Regions from separate parts of the Homo sapiens genome. Here region 1 is linked to region 2. The links come from fine-mapping of genetic effects on gene expression. Tissue or cell type: whole blood. Region 2 holds a variant in brackets; the other region holds the start of a gene. All regions are shown on one strand. Distances are from middle to middle.

What was found. PIP is the estimated chance that this variant, and not a neighbour inherited with it, causes the effect.
Region 1: it holds the start of MTF2, and the variant in region 2 is fine-mapped to the expression of MTF2 in whole blood (TOPMed, PIP above 0.99). The same link has a PIP of 0.9 or more in monocytes after R848.

The regions. Positions count from the first base shown.
Region 1 is chr1:93,074,476-93,081,703 of GRCh38, forward strand. MTF2 (metal response element binding transcription factor 2) reads left to right here and starts at 4,808. Exons shown (of 15, transcript NM_007358.4): 1 at 4,808-5,056. The coding sequence starts at 5,052. RefSeq lists enhancers at 4,371-4,620, 4,557-4,851.
Region 2 is chr1:93,038,946-93,047,669 of GRCh38, forward strand. No RefSeq gene overlaps it. Among named protein-coding and RNA genes, the nearest start is that of MTF2, 36 kb to the right of the region's middle. RefSeq lists an enhancer at 3,548-3,807. The variant G/A (reference allele first, on the strand shown) is at 3,680.

The sequences.
Region 1 (7,228 bases), 35 kb after region 2:
TTGTATTTTTTGTAGCGACAGGGTTTTGCCATGTTGCCCAGGGTGGTCTCAAACTCCTGGGCTCAAGCAATCCTCCCACCTCAGCCTCTCAAAGTGTTGGGATTACAGGCAGAAGCCACCACACCCAGCCACAAGAAGATTAATACAGACCTATACCTCTCACACTGTGCACAAAAAATAACTCGAAATGGATCATAGACTTACATATAAGAGCTAAACCTATAAACTTCTGAAGAAAACATAATAGAAAATAGACTTTGGTAAAATAATTCTTAGTTATAACACCAAAAGCATATGGTATTTAAAAAAAGATAAATAGGATTTCATTGAACTTAAAATAAATTTTTTTCCCTTCAAAATACATTAAGCCCTGGCAAGGGTGGCTTGCACCTGTAATCCCAGTTACTTGAGAGGCTGAGGTGGGAGGATGGCTTGAGGCCAAGAGTTCCAGGCCAGCCTGGGCTACATATAGAGATCCCATCTCTAAAAGAATTAAAACAAAATTAGCTGGGAGTGGTGGTGTGCACCTGTAGTCTCAGCTACTTGAGAAGCTAATATGGGAGGATTGCTTGAGCCTAGGAGTTTGAGGTTATGGTGGGCTATGATCAGTGCCACTACACTCCAGGCTGGGCAACAGAGTGAGACCTTGTTTCTGGGGGAAAAAGAAAAGACATCATTATGAAAAATGAAAAGACAAGTCATAAAGTCATAGACAGGAAGACAATATTTGCAAATCATGCTTCTGTTAAAGAACCTAAATCTAGAATATATAAAGAACTCTTACAAGTTGATATAAGAAGATTGTCCAGTTAAAAAATACATAAAATATTTGAGTAGGCACTTCACTAAAGAAGATATAAGAATGGCTAACAAACCAAAGATGCTCAATAGCACTAGCCATTAGGGAAACCACAATGAACCACTTCACTCCCACTGTTTTAAATTATTATAATAATTTTTTTTTTTTTTTTGGCCAGGTGCAGTGGCTCATGCCTGTAATCCCAGCACTTTGGGAGGCCGAGGCAGGCAGATCACAAGGTCAGGAATTTGAGACCAGCCTGACCAACATGGTGAAACCCAGTCTCTACTAAAAATACAAAAATTAGCCGGGCGTGGTGGCACGTGCCTGTAATCCCAGCTATTCAGGAGGCTGAGGCAGGAGAATCGCTTGAACTCAGGAGGCAGAGGTTGCAGTAAGCCAAGATTGTGCCACTGCACTCCAGCCTGGGTGACAGAGAGAGACTCCATCTAAAAAAAAAAAAAATTATTATTTTTTTAGAGACAAGGTTTCACTGTATTGCCCTGGCTGGTCTCAAACTTCTGGGCTCAAGCAATCCTCCAGCCTTGGCCTCCCAAAGTGCTAGGATTACAGGTGTGAGCCACCATGCCTAGCAATCCCTACTGTTATGAGTGAAATCAGAAAGATAGACAAGTATCAGTGAGGATATTGGGAAACTGGAAGGCTTACATATTGCTTACACTTTGGAAAACAGTTTGGCAGTATCTTAAAATGTTAAACATAAACTTATCATACAACTCTGTAATTCCACTTCTAGGGATCTACTCAAGAAAAATAAAAAACGAATGTCCATACAAAGATTTGTACACAAATGTTCATAGCAGTCTTATTTATAATAGCCCCAGATTGAAAACAACATAAATGTCCTTCAACTGGCGAATGGATAAACAAAATGTAGTACATTCATTCAAATGGAGTCTATTTGGCAATAAAAAGAAATAACTACTGACTGGTACAACGTAGATGAACCTAAAAAATATTCTGAGTGAAAGAACCCAGATGCAAAAGACTACTTATTGTATGAAACCATTTATATGAAATTGTCAGAAAGCAGATAGCAGATTGCCTAGGGCTTGGAAGGAGGGTTGACTGCAAATGCGCATAATGAATTTTTTGGGGGTGATGGAAATGTTTTAAACGTGGATTGTGGTGATGATTGCACAATTCTAGTCACTGCTTATTGTAGACATTTAGGAACTGAAAGCGACAGACATTCTATCTCAACCCAAGCTTCCATGATTACCATAGCATGGGGGAGGGAGATGTGTCTCTGCTTCTTAAAGATTCTCCTGAGAAGTGATACATGTCACCCATTTTATTGGTCAAAGCAATTAACTTCAGGGGTGCAAGAAAGTGCAAATTTTTTTTTCTTTTTTCTTCGAGACAGAGTCTCCCTCTGTCGCCTAGGCTGGAGTGCAGCGGTGCAATCTTGGCTCACTGCAATCTCGGCCTCCTGGGTTCAAGTGATTCTCTGCCTCAGCCTCCCAAATAGCTGGGATTACAGGCATGCACCACCACGCCCGGCTAATTTTTGTATTTTTAGTAGAGACAGAGTTTTGCCATGTTGGCCACGCTAGTCTGGAATTCCTGGCCTAAAGTGATCTGCCCCCCTCAGCCTCCCAAAGTGCTGGGATTACAGGCGTGGCCACCGCGCCCGGCCAGAGTGCAATTTTACTATGTGTCTGGAAGAGAGGGGAACCAGAATACTTATGAACCACCCTAAGGATGATCACAGAAATACATACAACAATAAAGGGTACAGTTTACTCTGATCAGAGTTCACTCTATATTTCCGAGGAACCACAACTACAGCAGGTTTTTTTTTTTTTTTTTTTTTTTTTTGAGGCAGTCTCACTGTGGCTCAAGTAAGCCTACCACCTCAGCCTCCTGAATAGCTGGGACTACAGGCAGGGGCCCAGCTAATTTTTAAATTTTTTGTAGAGACAGGGTCTCACTATGTGGCTCAGACTGCATACTGGTCTGGAACTCCCCAGCTCAAGTGATCCTTCTACCTTGGCCTTTCAAAGTACTGGGATTACAGGAGTGAGTTGCTGGTGGCTGGCTGACAGGTATTCTTTATACTTGACTGTGACTCCCTGAGTGTCCTTAAATCTCTGAACACTTGGTTTGCTTACACCTTTGTACTCACACGTTTGCACAGAAAAATAACACTTTTTTTTGATAGAGGCATAATTTACTTCTCTAATGTATAAGGGATTAGAATACTTTTGTGTAGCCAAAGAGCCTAAATTATTAGAGTTTCTGAGGTGGAAATGAATGCGTCTGAAGTATTGAATCACTGAAGATTTTGAAGTTGAGGCTTGGTGACCACTTTACAGAAATGTTGAGGAAAACTTAGACCAAACGTTCTCCAAAACAGATGTTCTCTGATTAGGCTTAGCTGCACAGCAAATATATCTGTTTGTGCAATATCTTTATTAATTTTTGTACTGCATCTACTTTTTAATATTTTATTTATTTATTTACCTTAATGCCACGTTCCTGAATGGGAATGCATCTACTTTTTTTTTTTTTTTTTTGAGATGGAGTTTTTGCTCTTGTTGCCTAGGCTGGAGTGCAATGGCACGATCTTGGCTCACCACAACCTCTGCCTCCTGGGTTCAAGCGATTCTCCTGTCTCAGCCTCCCGAGTAGCTGGGATTACAGGCATGTGCCACCACACCTGGCTAATTTTTGTATTTTTAGTAGAGACGGGGTTTCTCCAAGTTGATCAGGTTGGTCTCGAATTCCCGACCTCAGGTGATCTGCCTGTCTCGGCCTCCCAAAGTGCTGGAATTACAGGTGTGAGCCACCGCGCCCGGCTGCATCTGCTTTTTTTAAGTCAAAATTTTCCTCAGCCAACGTATGAAGGTCACTTAAGACGAATTTATGAGAGACGATGATGAGAATTGAAATAAAGTGAAACCTGAAAGGTAGTAGGTAAGTAGATACAGTGAGGGTACAGTAAGAAGACAGACTTAAAAGATTAGGACTATTATTCAGGAGAAGCAGAGGAGTGGAAGGGTATGACCACAATATTTAAAGTATTGAATGGTATTGGATAAAACGAATATGCTTATTTGCCAAATTCTGAGATCACAGGCTGAGGGAACCCCTTTTGAAGTATGAGCCAAATGAGCTTAGACCACAAAAGGTACTTTTTCAGAGACAGAAAAAATATGGTGTTCACTATCCCTGTGGCATAATATGGGACAAAAATATAAAATGGCTTTAAAAATATTTTGACGAAATTATAAATAAAGATTCCACACGTGGCTACTAAGAGGAGCTGGGTTGTATCTAGGTGTAAGTTAAAGAGACAAGCATACAATCTCACAGCTTGTCAGTTGGGACCCCTGTAGGCAGCAGAATCTGGGCAGGCTAAGGGTCTGCACTAATAAACAATTCTGTTTTCTTAAACCATTTTGCAGGGGACTATTCTCAGATTTCATTACAACTAGGAAGGACTGCAAAGCGGGTAAACAGAAAACAACCTTTCATCGTTAGGAAAAAAATCGTCTGAAAGTCTTTCATAAAAGCAGCTCCTGATAAGGAGTTTGGGACTGGACAGTGAATCGCTGAATAAAATTTAATCTCGACATCCTGGGTCTTCTCCCCTCTGAAGGAAATTCTAACAGCAGGCCTTAGGATGAAAGTAGAGGAAACGTGCTTCAGTTAAGGTTTTCTCCAGGGAAAAGAAATCGGCCCAGCAAGATGCACAGAGCACCGTTACGACCACGCACACCGAAGGTCGCACACGACCCTTTTCCTGTATAACAGTGCCAGCCTGCCGACGATCAGGAGCGCAGCTTTCACTATTGTGTTAGCCCCGGCGGCGGAAGGACTGAGCCTCACTGCAACGTTAAAGAGTCCTTCTTTGTTCAGCCCCAGTCGGGGACGCAGGGCGCGGTGTTCCTCCGCGCTCGCCGCGCAGTCCCTGCCCCCCCGCGGCTTTGGAGAGCTGCCATTCGGCACCGGAGTCGCTCCGCGCTCCCAGAATGCACCGGCAGTCCGCGGGAAACCAAAATGGCGAGGGGCTGTATTGAAGTGGGCTGTGTTTGAGGCCGGTGTAAGAACGCTCATTCTACCCCCAACCCTTGTCTCCAAGGACCTCGGTTTGTGCGTGCATATGTGCCGGGTACCCGGTGGGGCGGGTGCCCAGTAAGTGCTCGGACTCGCAGGGGAAGCGCCCACGGGGACGGATTGGTTGTTTTTTCCTGTATGAAGCGGTTGGCACCACTGAAGTGACCGAATGAGGTGAGAGACCTTGGCCTGGGAACCGACTCTTCCGGAGGAGATGGGGGTTGGGGGAAGGAGGAAGAAAGGAAGCAAGTATAAAAGGGAAAGATGGAGGACCAAGGTGGGGGTGGGGGCTCCTGTATGTGGGTGCCTTTGCATTTATGTGTATATTGAAAAGAATGGATGAAGAGGAGTAGTCAGTTGAGTGTTGGGAGAAAATAGGGACTAAAGGAGCGAGGAGGTCGTTGGGGGAGTCTGTTGGAGGAACAAGATGAAACGTTGAGACGGGGAAGCTGTGTTTGGAGGGCAGGAAGGAACCTGGGGGCGGGAGACGGTTGGAGGGGCAGGATGAACCTGGTGACGAGGGGGTGGGGAGCCGAGAGGAGGAGCCGTTGGGAAATGGGGGCTGAGGGAAATGTGGGGAGCAGAGTGGAGGGCTGCCTGGGACCTTAGCAGTGCGCAAAGGGAAGTAGCAGCTTGGAATCGGAGGGTGGAATTGTATGGAATTGGAGTAAAGGGGGTCGAGTGTAAGTGCTGGTAAGGATAAGGGGAACACACTGAAGTGGAGGTTGGAAGCACAACCTGAAAGCTTAAAGGGAAGCGGTGGGAGGGAAAGTGAGATGGGGGAAAGCTAGGTAGCTTATATTTGGAGCTCACCAAAAATATGAGGCTTTTCTTGTGTTTAATTAAACCTAACTCATATAATCTACGTCTAGGATGTAGATTTGTATTGTATTCATTTTTACAACTGAGGTAATTACGGCTCAAGGAATTTTAACCAATTTGCCAAGATTTCTTAACATATTTCGGTAGTGCCAGAACTCTAACTCTGTGTTTTACAATCTGGTGTCCTTGGTTGCTAGAATTTTTCTTTGGAAGCAATTAGAGGGAACAGATGGATTTATCGGGGTAATCTGACTAACAGCAAGGGTTTGTGAACAATGGGAAAAGGCTTATGGAATGTTACTCTATTCTTTAAAACATTTAACTTTGGTTAAAGATAGAAACCATGTAACACTAACTTAAATGTGAAAACCTAGCTAGGCCTGTGTGTAATACATAGGAAGGCACCATGTGAGGTCAGTACAGAGCTAGAAATATGTAAATAGTACCTGATTTAATTTGACTTCAGAACCTCCGGTAGTAATAGTAGTTACTTTCTCCTTCAGATGGATTCCATGTGACCCTCCTGTATACCTAGCCTACAAGCTGGTTTCAATTTCCATGGTTTCATTCTCTCTTGGGAATTCCTTTTTTTTTTTTTTTTGTCAGTAAATTTCAAAGATAGTTGTATGTAGAAGTAGTTAATGTGGATAAAATGTAATTAAATTCACAATAACCTTTTTAAGATTTGAAAATGCTTTAAAGGGAGTTGTTTTGACTGATGGCTTTAAGTGCCCTATAGTTTAGTTATAACTTGAGAGGGAATACAAAATGACTTGTTTTTTCAGATTCCTAAATATAAAAATGTATTTGAATTCACATTTTAAAATTAGTTCACCTGCAGTTTTTTAAAGTGCTAAAAATGTTCTAAATATTTGAATTAAGAACACACCTGCTTCCTGATACTACATTTATAATGTTAGTGGGTATTAACGGAAATGTGTAACTATCAGGATGAAATGCATACACAGTTTTAGAACTAGTTGTACAGAAATCATCTTGTTAAGCCTTTTTTCTAGATGACACAATTATATTTAATAGTTCTTTAAATCATCCCCGTTGCCTCAAAGCTCTGTTAGGAAAGACATTCTGTGTATTTTACTGTGGGTCATTAACTCTTTGATTTCATGGATTATAAATATTCCTTTTTGTGGGATCTTTGAAGGATAATTTGCTTTAATCATTTTTCAGCATAATCTTTACATCTGACTTGAGGAAACTGACAGTATATTGTTAATCTATATTTTAACAGAGAAATTTGCCTCTGAGGAGTTGCCATGACCAACATCTGTAGCTTGATGGTTCTGAAAGTAAAACTTAACTGCTGTTTTAGTTAGTCGACACTTCCATGAACGATCTTTGATGGTTAATATTTTTGTACTTTGTTTTCCCTGTTCTTCAGGAAAATTTGTTTATTGCTGTGAAATCCAGTATAACCATCCTAAATTGGAATGTAAAAGTTTCCCTGTGGATATTTCTTATATGTTAGAGTAGTGCTATCTAGTAGAAATTTCTCCAGTGATGGCA
Region 2 (8,724 bases):
ATTATCCCTCATACACAGTATGCATTTAAACATGATGCTGAATGAATAGAGGAATAAACAGATCTCCATGGAGCTCAGGTTCGGCTGCAGGATTAATCAGAGATGGACACTTAGTGTGACATTGTCACTGATATATGTTATCAGCAGGATGTATTTTTTTTCTCCTATGAAGTAGTTCTTATTTGAGTCACAACTGGAGGATGGTTTTAGATCCTTGGCAACATAGGGCAGCAGCTTGATTCCTTTCTGGCCTAGAACCTTAAATAATAAAGTATTTTCAAAAGGAAATTAAAATGCATTGGAAAGATATAACTTTATAACTTCTATAACTCATTATTAATAGATTCCAGAACAGATCTCTGAACAATTCTTCACAGTAGCACAAGAACCTGTTATAAGCAAATGCAATCAACCCTCCAACACTTTCTGGAAATAACTTTAGTTTGTATGAGAATTATTGTTTTAAAATTACTTTTTGCTCTCTATAGCTTCACTATTTATCTTGAACATTCTGGATGAAAATTGTAGCCTTACTTTTCACACAGCTAAAAATTTAAGTTATCTAGAATATACTTTAAAAAGCATTATGGATGCCGGGCACTGTGGCTCATGCCTGTAATCCCAGCACTTTGGGAGGCCAAGGAGGGTGGATCATTTGAGGTCAGGAGTTAGAGACCAGCCTGACCAACATGGTGAAACCCCGTCTCTACTAAAATACAAAAAAATTAGCCAGGCATGGTCGTGGGCACCTGTAATCTCAGCTACTTGGGAGACTGAGGCAGGAGAATCACTTGAACCCAGGAGGCGGAGGTTGCAGTGAGCTGAGATCACGCCACTGCACCCCAGCCTGGGCAACAGAGAGAGTGAGACTCCCTCAACAACAACAACAAAAAAAAGTGTATGGATAATGGAGATACAGTCTTCTCTCTCCATCTCCTCACATCCTTGTAATCATGAAAATGTAGCTTTCTTTCTTCTCTTGTTTCCATTCTTTTTATTATCCAATCAGTATTCCATATTAGCACATTGAAAGCTCCACATTGTTTTTACAGTTGCATAGTATTCCACTTGTGAATATACCATTATTATTTAACCAGTTATCTGTATATAAGTGGTTCTCAATTAGAGAGTCTGGGAGGTTTTGTCCCTGACTGGGGTCATTTGGCATTGTCTACAATCATTTTGGTCTGGGAGTAAAGTGCTGCTCACATCTAGTAGGTAGAGGCCAGAGATGCTACTAAATATGCTACAATGCACAGAACAGTCCCATAACAAAGAATTATCTGGTCTAAAATGTCAATTAGTGCTGAGATTGGAAAATTCTGCTATGGATGGACATTTGGGCTATTTCCAATCTTCATGGCTATACAAGCAATGCCTCAATAAATGACCTTGTAAATTTGTCATTTTGTATAAATGCAAACATATTTTTAGAATGAATTGCCAGAAGTGATAGTGCTGGGTTGAAGAATACGTGCAATTGAAATGCCTTCTAAATCACCCCCAAAGGGATGTGGATTCTGCACTTCCAACAGTAGTTTATTTATTTCTACAATCTCTTGAACAAAGTGTATTGCTACGCTTTTGTTTTTTCGTAATCTGAGAAGTGCAGGATGTTATTTCAGTTACCCTTAATTTGCAACTGCCTTATGATAATGTCTTTTCATATGGTGAAGGGCCATTTGAATTTCTTTCTTTCTTTCTTTTCTTCTTTTTTTTGAGATGGAGTTTCACTCTTGTTGCCCAGGCTGGAGTGCAATGGCACGATCTCAGCTCACCGCAACCTCGCCTCCTGGGTTCAAGTGATTCTCATTCCTCAACCTCCCAAGTAACTGGGATTACAGGTGCCCACCACCACACCGGCTAATTTTGTATTTTAAGAGATGGGGTTTCTCCACGTTGGCAAGGCTGGTCTCAAACTCCTGACCTTAGGTGATCCATCCGCCTCGGCCTCCCAAAGTGCTGGGATTACAGTCGTGAGCCACTGCGCCCAGCGTGAATTTCGTTTTCTATTGCCTTAGGGTGAGACGAAGACAGTTGTCTGAACACCGGGTGGGGTTTTCAGAGAGTCTGTGACTATAGCCAGGGTTTAAACAGAGTAAAGGAATCTGCGCTTTTATCAAGGCACCTGAAGATACAAAACTCAAGAAATCTAGTCCAAGCCAATGTATTAGAAAGAGAAGAATCAAATGGCAGGGAGACGGGACAAGCTCCAGGTTCAAAAGGCCAGAAGAGGGTTGGAGCCAGAGTAAAGGAGCCTAGAGTCCAGAATCTGCCAGCGGAGTCAGGTTGGAATAAAAATATATTGGAGCAAAAGCTAATTGTGTGAAATGACTAACATAGCAGCAGCTGGCTTAGAAGGAATAATGGCTAGGTAGACACACTGGCTGAACAGCTTCCTTTCTCCTCACAGAATTTTGTTATTTCTTCTATTATAGTATTTAACTTGTATTGCAATTGTCATGCACAGTGCCTGGCATGAAATTAACCCTTTTTTTTTTTTGAGACAGAGTCCCTCTCTCTCGCCCAGGCTGGAGTGCAGTGGCGTGATCTCAGCTCACTGCAAGTTCCGCCTCCCGGGTTCACGCCATTCTCCCGCCTCAGCCTCCGGAGTAGCTGGGACTACAGGCGCCCGCCACCACACCCGGCTAATTTTTTATTTTTATTTTTTTATTTTTAGTAGAGACAGGGTTTCACCATGTTAACCAGGATGGTCTCGATCTCCTGACCTCGTGATCCGCCCGCCTCCGCCTCCCAAAGTGCTGGGATTACAGGCGTGAGGTCCCGCACCCGGCCCTTATTCTTTATCTTCTTATCCCTTATCTGACACTAATCTTGAAGTTCTGCCTTAGCCCTCCTCTAAGAATCTCTATTTGCACTATAAGTAATTGGTTTTTTTTTCTCTACGTAACATTCTCCATCACCATCTCCAAATATACTAATTAACTGTGACAGTTAAGGTGTTTATATTCTTCTAATTGAAATTAGTAAATATACTTGGCTGATGATCAGTGCAGGATATGCAGTTTTATTTGTGTGTCTTAATGACCAAAGACTTAGGGTATGAGGAAAGTCCTACTCTTGTAAAAACAAAACAAAACAAAAACAACCCATGTTACTGTTACCAGTAGAGGCTCTTGACTGCAAGCTGCCCAGGTTCTTCGCATTTTGAAGAATTGGGCAAAACGCACAGCAAAGCAAGGAAACAATGAAGCCATGAAAGCAGAGATTTATTGAAAGTGAAAATACACTCCACGGTGTGGAAGCCCTCCCAACAGCGGCTCAAAGGCTCTGGATACAGAACCTTCTTGGGTCCAAATACCCGCTAGAGGTTTCCCATTGGCCACTTGGTGTTCACCACATGTAAATGAAGTGGTGGTCCACAATTAGTCTGATTGCTTGCAGACAGCAAGCAATCAGAGGCTGAAGTCAAGTTACAAAGGTCACACTCCTATGCAAACATATGGTTGGTTGTGGAAAGCAAACAATCAGAGGCTAAAGTGAAGTTATAAAGTTGCACTTCTATGCAAATGTAGCCTTGGCTCATAATCATAATCACTGAAGTGAAGTTACAATGTTATATTCCTATGGAAAGGTCTGATTGGTTGCAAAAAGTAACCACTCAGAGGTAGTTTCAGTTTCCCATCTGCTGTGTAGAAAAGGTTGGGGTTTGCAAAGG[G/A]AGTAGCTTCTGGTCCTTTTGTTACGTAGGTGCAGAAAGTTGGGGTTTTTCTTTCGATTTAGTTCTAGGAAGTCAGGGTGAATCAGCCTTAGGTTCCTTGCCTCCAGACCCTATTCTGCCTCATTACGATATTCCTTTCACGTTCTTTGGGACTATTCGGTGTTTCACATGAGATTGGCTCTCATGCCTGGTGAAATACTCAAATTCAGTTATACAGATAACCTTGTCTTGAAAAGTTCTAGAAAGCACTACTGAAACTTTAGTCTCCAGCTTTATTTCTTCTGGACTACTTGATACAAACTGTCTCTCTCTCTTTTTTTTTTCTGAGACAGGTTCTTGCTTTGTCATCCAGGCTGGAGTGCAGTGGCTCAAACATGGCTCACTGCAGCCTCCGCCTCCAGGGTTCAAGCGATCCTCTCACCTCAGCCCCACAGGTAGCTGGGACTACAGGTGCGTGCCAGCATGCCTAGCTATTTTTTTGTATTTTTTTAAAGATGGGGTCTTGCTATGTTGCCCAGGCCGATCTTGAACTCCTGAGCTCAAGCAATCTTCCCATCTCGGCCTCCCGAAGTGCTGGGATTACAAGTATGAGCCACCACACAGAACCAGTATGATCTCTTTTCATGGTACTTAAAAAATTATATTACTAGCCTTTGTTCAACAAGCTTGTATAAGTGTAATGACCTATTTTATAAATTATTTTTATTGTATTTTAAATTAGATGTTTATTGATGACTTAGCAAGAAATACATTACTCTCAACACTAAAAGCCTATTAACATTAAATTATAAAATTTAGTATTTCCAGAATATTTCTTGCAGACACCAATCCCATCAATGTTTCAACTCAATTTAATAGGCATCTTGTGAAGAACTGGTATAGAAAATCAGAGTTTTGCTCAATGCCTAATTATCATAAATTGAAGCATTTATTGTCTTCTATGTTCTTAGTACCATATTTAGTTATAGGACAATTCATAGTCCTATATGGTGCTATGGTATAGCAATAGGCTATACCATATAGCCTAAGTGTGTAGTAGGCTCTACCATGTAGGTTTGTGTAAGTGCACTCTATGATGTTCACACAAGGACAAAATCACCAAACAATGCTTTTTTCAGACTGTACCCTGTCGTTAAGCAACATATGACTGTGTTTTATATGGGAATATGGACACCAAAATGTTATTCTCTATGTGTATTATGAGTAATTTTTATTTTTTGTTTTATACTTTTTATATTTTTTCAGAAATAACATCAATACTTTGTAATCAGAAAAATATATTTTAGGGATAAGTATTGGCTTGTACAATTTTTTTTTTGCTTTTGTGAAAATACAGAGGAAAAACTAATGTTATATTATAACGAAAATGGTATATGTTAACAAAGGAATCCTTTTACAGAAACTCCTTAGAAATAAAAGGAAAATCAAGGCCAAAGCAAAAGTCATGTCATGACTTTAAAGAACTTTGCCCCCTAGGATACAAAATCTATTAATTTTAACGGTGGGGCTACTGTTTGTAAGAGTACCAAACATTCTGAATAGATAGAAGCCTCCAGCTGTAAACTGATGGACTTTTGTGGTCTCAAAGCAGTTGAGGGTTTCTACCCTTAAAATACCATTTCTCATGTTACAGCAATTGAGAGTGTGCAAAATGTATAGAACAGATTGTGTTTCACTCTATTTGCGTGGCTTGTTGAAGTTAGATTAATACTGTGGGAATCCTTACTCCATTCATAACTCTGAATATGTACTTATGGTATTTATATATCTAGAATTTAAGTAATCACTCTTGCCCACCATCTGTACACGGATAATTTTTACCCTGGGAGCTATTGGTTCCAATGTATTGTTTTGACATTATACGCTATAGTTGATTCAAACAGAAGTGAATACCACAACAGTTGGCACTCTAAAATAAAATCCAGACCAATAACTTTCACAATTTTGTGGAATCTAATATGCCTATTACCCACACTGAGTCCACTACAGAATTAAAGTGAAAACTTGGAAAAGTAAGAATGAGATCTATATAAAAATTATCATCCCTCACTTGACAAAAAATTCTCATTGAAATCAATTGAGACTACAGGGTTCAATCTAGGAAAGTTGTATAGACCTAGAGTTCCCCAAATTTCTCAACTATGTCTGTTGACTGATATTTATGGCTTCCCTTTTCATTTATATTCTTTTTCTTTTCAAACACAGTGTAGTATAACTTGTTTAATTTTTTTAAAGTCTGAAGACTCAAAAACAAAACTAAACAATTTGAAAGCAAAACCTTACTGGCAGTGCAGATGCAACTTACAAAATATGAGAATCAGATGTGGAGATCTTTAGGGATTATAACATTTTAGATGATGATGATGATAACAATTATTATTATTATTTGAGACAGGGTCTCACTCTGTTGCCCAGGATGGAGTGCAGTGGCGTGATCTTGGCTCACTGCAACTTCCACCTCCTGCGTTCGAGAGATTCTCCTGCCTCAGCCTCCCAAGTAGCTGGGACTACAGGCACGTGTCACCATGCCTGGCTAGTTTTTGTATAGGTTGATGCAAAAGTAACTGTGGTTTTTGCAATTTTAAAAGTTATTTAATATTTTTGGTAAAGACAAGGTTTCACCATGTTGGCCAGGCTGTTCTTGAACGCCTGACGTCAAATGATCTGCCTGCTTTGGCCACTCAAAGTGCTGGGCTTACAGGTGTGAACCACTGAGGCTGGCCCCTTTTAGAAATTTTAATAGTAGCCAAGGCATGATCGGTACCAAACTATCTAATTCCAGCTACAAAGGTTGTTTGAAAACTCATTTTTAGAAGTTTGATAGCCTGTCCATAATCATACCACTTCCCACAAGCTTGAAAAAAAGAAAAAAAAGCAGGGGATAGCACATGGATTATACAAAAGGATAAAAGGATTATTATTATGTATTTATTTATTTATTTTTGAGACAGAGTCTTGCTCTGTCACCCAGGCTAGAGTGCAGTGTCGAGACCTTGGCTCACTGCAACCTCCACCTCCCGGGTTCAAGTGATTCTCATGCCCTAGCCTCCCAAGTAGCTGGGATTACAGGTGTGCGCCATCACAACCAGCTAATTTTTGTATTTTTAGTAGAGTTGGGGTTTCACCATGTTGGCCAGGCTGGTCTTGAATTCCTGGCCTTAAGTGATCCACTGACCTCAGCTTCCCAAAGTACTGGGATTACAAGTCTAAGCCACAGTGCCTGGACAAAAGGATTATTTTAAACATAACTAATGTTGCTTATTTACAAGTTTTTATGTACTTCTAAATTTCAATATATTTAAAGTTTTCTGTTGACTAATTTAATCAAAACCTGTCTAAAGTTGAAGAGAGAAGATCCTGAGAAGTTACGTATTGATTAATTCCTAAACTTAGTTGTAATGTATATTGACCTAACTCTAACTTTATCTGAAACTAATAGGTCAACCTAATATTAGGTCAACATTATTATTATTATTTGTTTATTTATTTAATTTGTTTTGAGAAGGAGTCTCACTCTGTGGCCCAGGCTGGAGTGCAGTGGCACAATCTCGGCTCACTGCAAGCTCCGCCTCTGGGGTTCACACCATTCTCCTGCCTCAGCCTCCCAAGTAGCTGGGACTACAGGTGCCCGCCACCATGCCCGGCTAATTTTTTGTATTTTTAGTAGAGACAGGGTTTCACCGTGTTAGCCAGGGTGGTCTCAATCTTCTGTATGTCAATATTGCTAACTGAATACTAGGTCAATATTATTACATTGTTCTAATTCTGAATGTTGATGCCCATATGGTTAGCGCTAATAACCGTTGAATATGTCTGCAGTTTATCAAGGAGTTTTATCTTGTTCTAACAACAAAACAAAAGAAAAAGAAAATAGAAAACAGTGGGCATATTCAATCATCAAAGGACCCAATAACAGAGAGAAATGTAATTTACATTTCTTGAATGCCACTATACATCAGACATTATGCTAGGCATTTTACATGGATTTATTGCTTAATCTTCCCAACGATCCTATGAGTAATTATGAGTAATGTATTATTATCCTATTTTACAGATGAAGAAAATGAGACTTGAAGGCAGAAAGTGGAATGTAGATGACACTCAGCTCTTCTTTGAGATGAAAACCCAAATGCATGAGGATAAATCAGAGGAAGTTATTATAAGACAGGGAGGTTGAGAAAAATGTGTCACATGAGTTTCAGCACGAACAAAAGCAAGGTACTTTCATTTAAAATGTATTTAGAGGATAATGATAAGTCATTATTAACTACTCCTCTAAAATAATAATCCTCAATGGTTACAGCCAATATGCCAATAGAAGATTGGGCATTGCCAAAAATTAAAGGAAAATTAAATTGAAAACACTGTCCTTCCTTTCAACAAACTATGATATATCCCCATCTAAATATTCTACCCCATTCTGCTTGTTTCATCTCTAGAAATGAATAATGGAACCAGCCAGGCATGGTGGCTCACACCCGTAATCCCAGCACTTTGGGAGGCAAAAGTGAAAGGTTGGCTTGAGCCCAGGAATTTGAGACCAACCTGGGCAACATAGTGAGACCTCATCTGTACCAAAAAATATATATAAATAAATAAGTAAATTAGCTGGATGTGGTGGCACGCACCTATGGTTCCAGCTACTCTGGAGGCTAAAGGTGAAAGCCACAGTGAGCCATGATCACGCCACTGCACTTTCAGCCTGGGTGACAGAGCAAGGCCCCATCTCAAATAATAATAATAATAATAATAATGGAACCAAGGAAGGCCCAAATGAAATTGAGCTTTTACCGAAAAGTGTCACTTGAAGTTTTTTTATGCTAAGAATAGTGTCTTTTATTCTCAGATCACTTTTCATGATATGCTCGTCTAAACCCTGGAGTATGGTGGCAAGAAAGATGAACATGCTCACTCAGACTCTTATTCAGTAATTCATATAATAAATGTTATACACTGTACAGACACTAGAAATCAAAGATGATAAAGGTAACTTTTAGACACTTCCTGTCTAGACATCCCTGCCATTTTACTCTGATTTGGGCTAT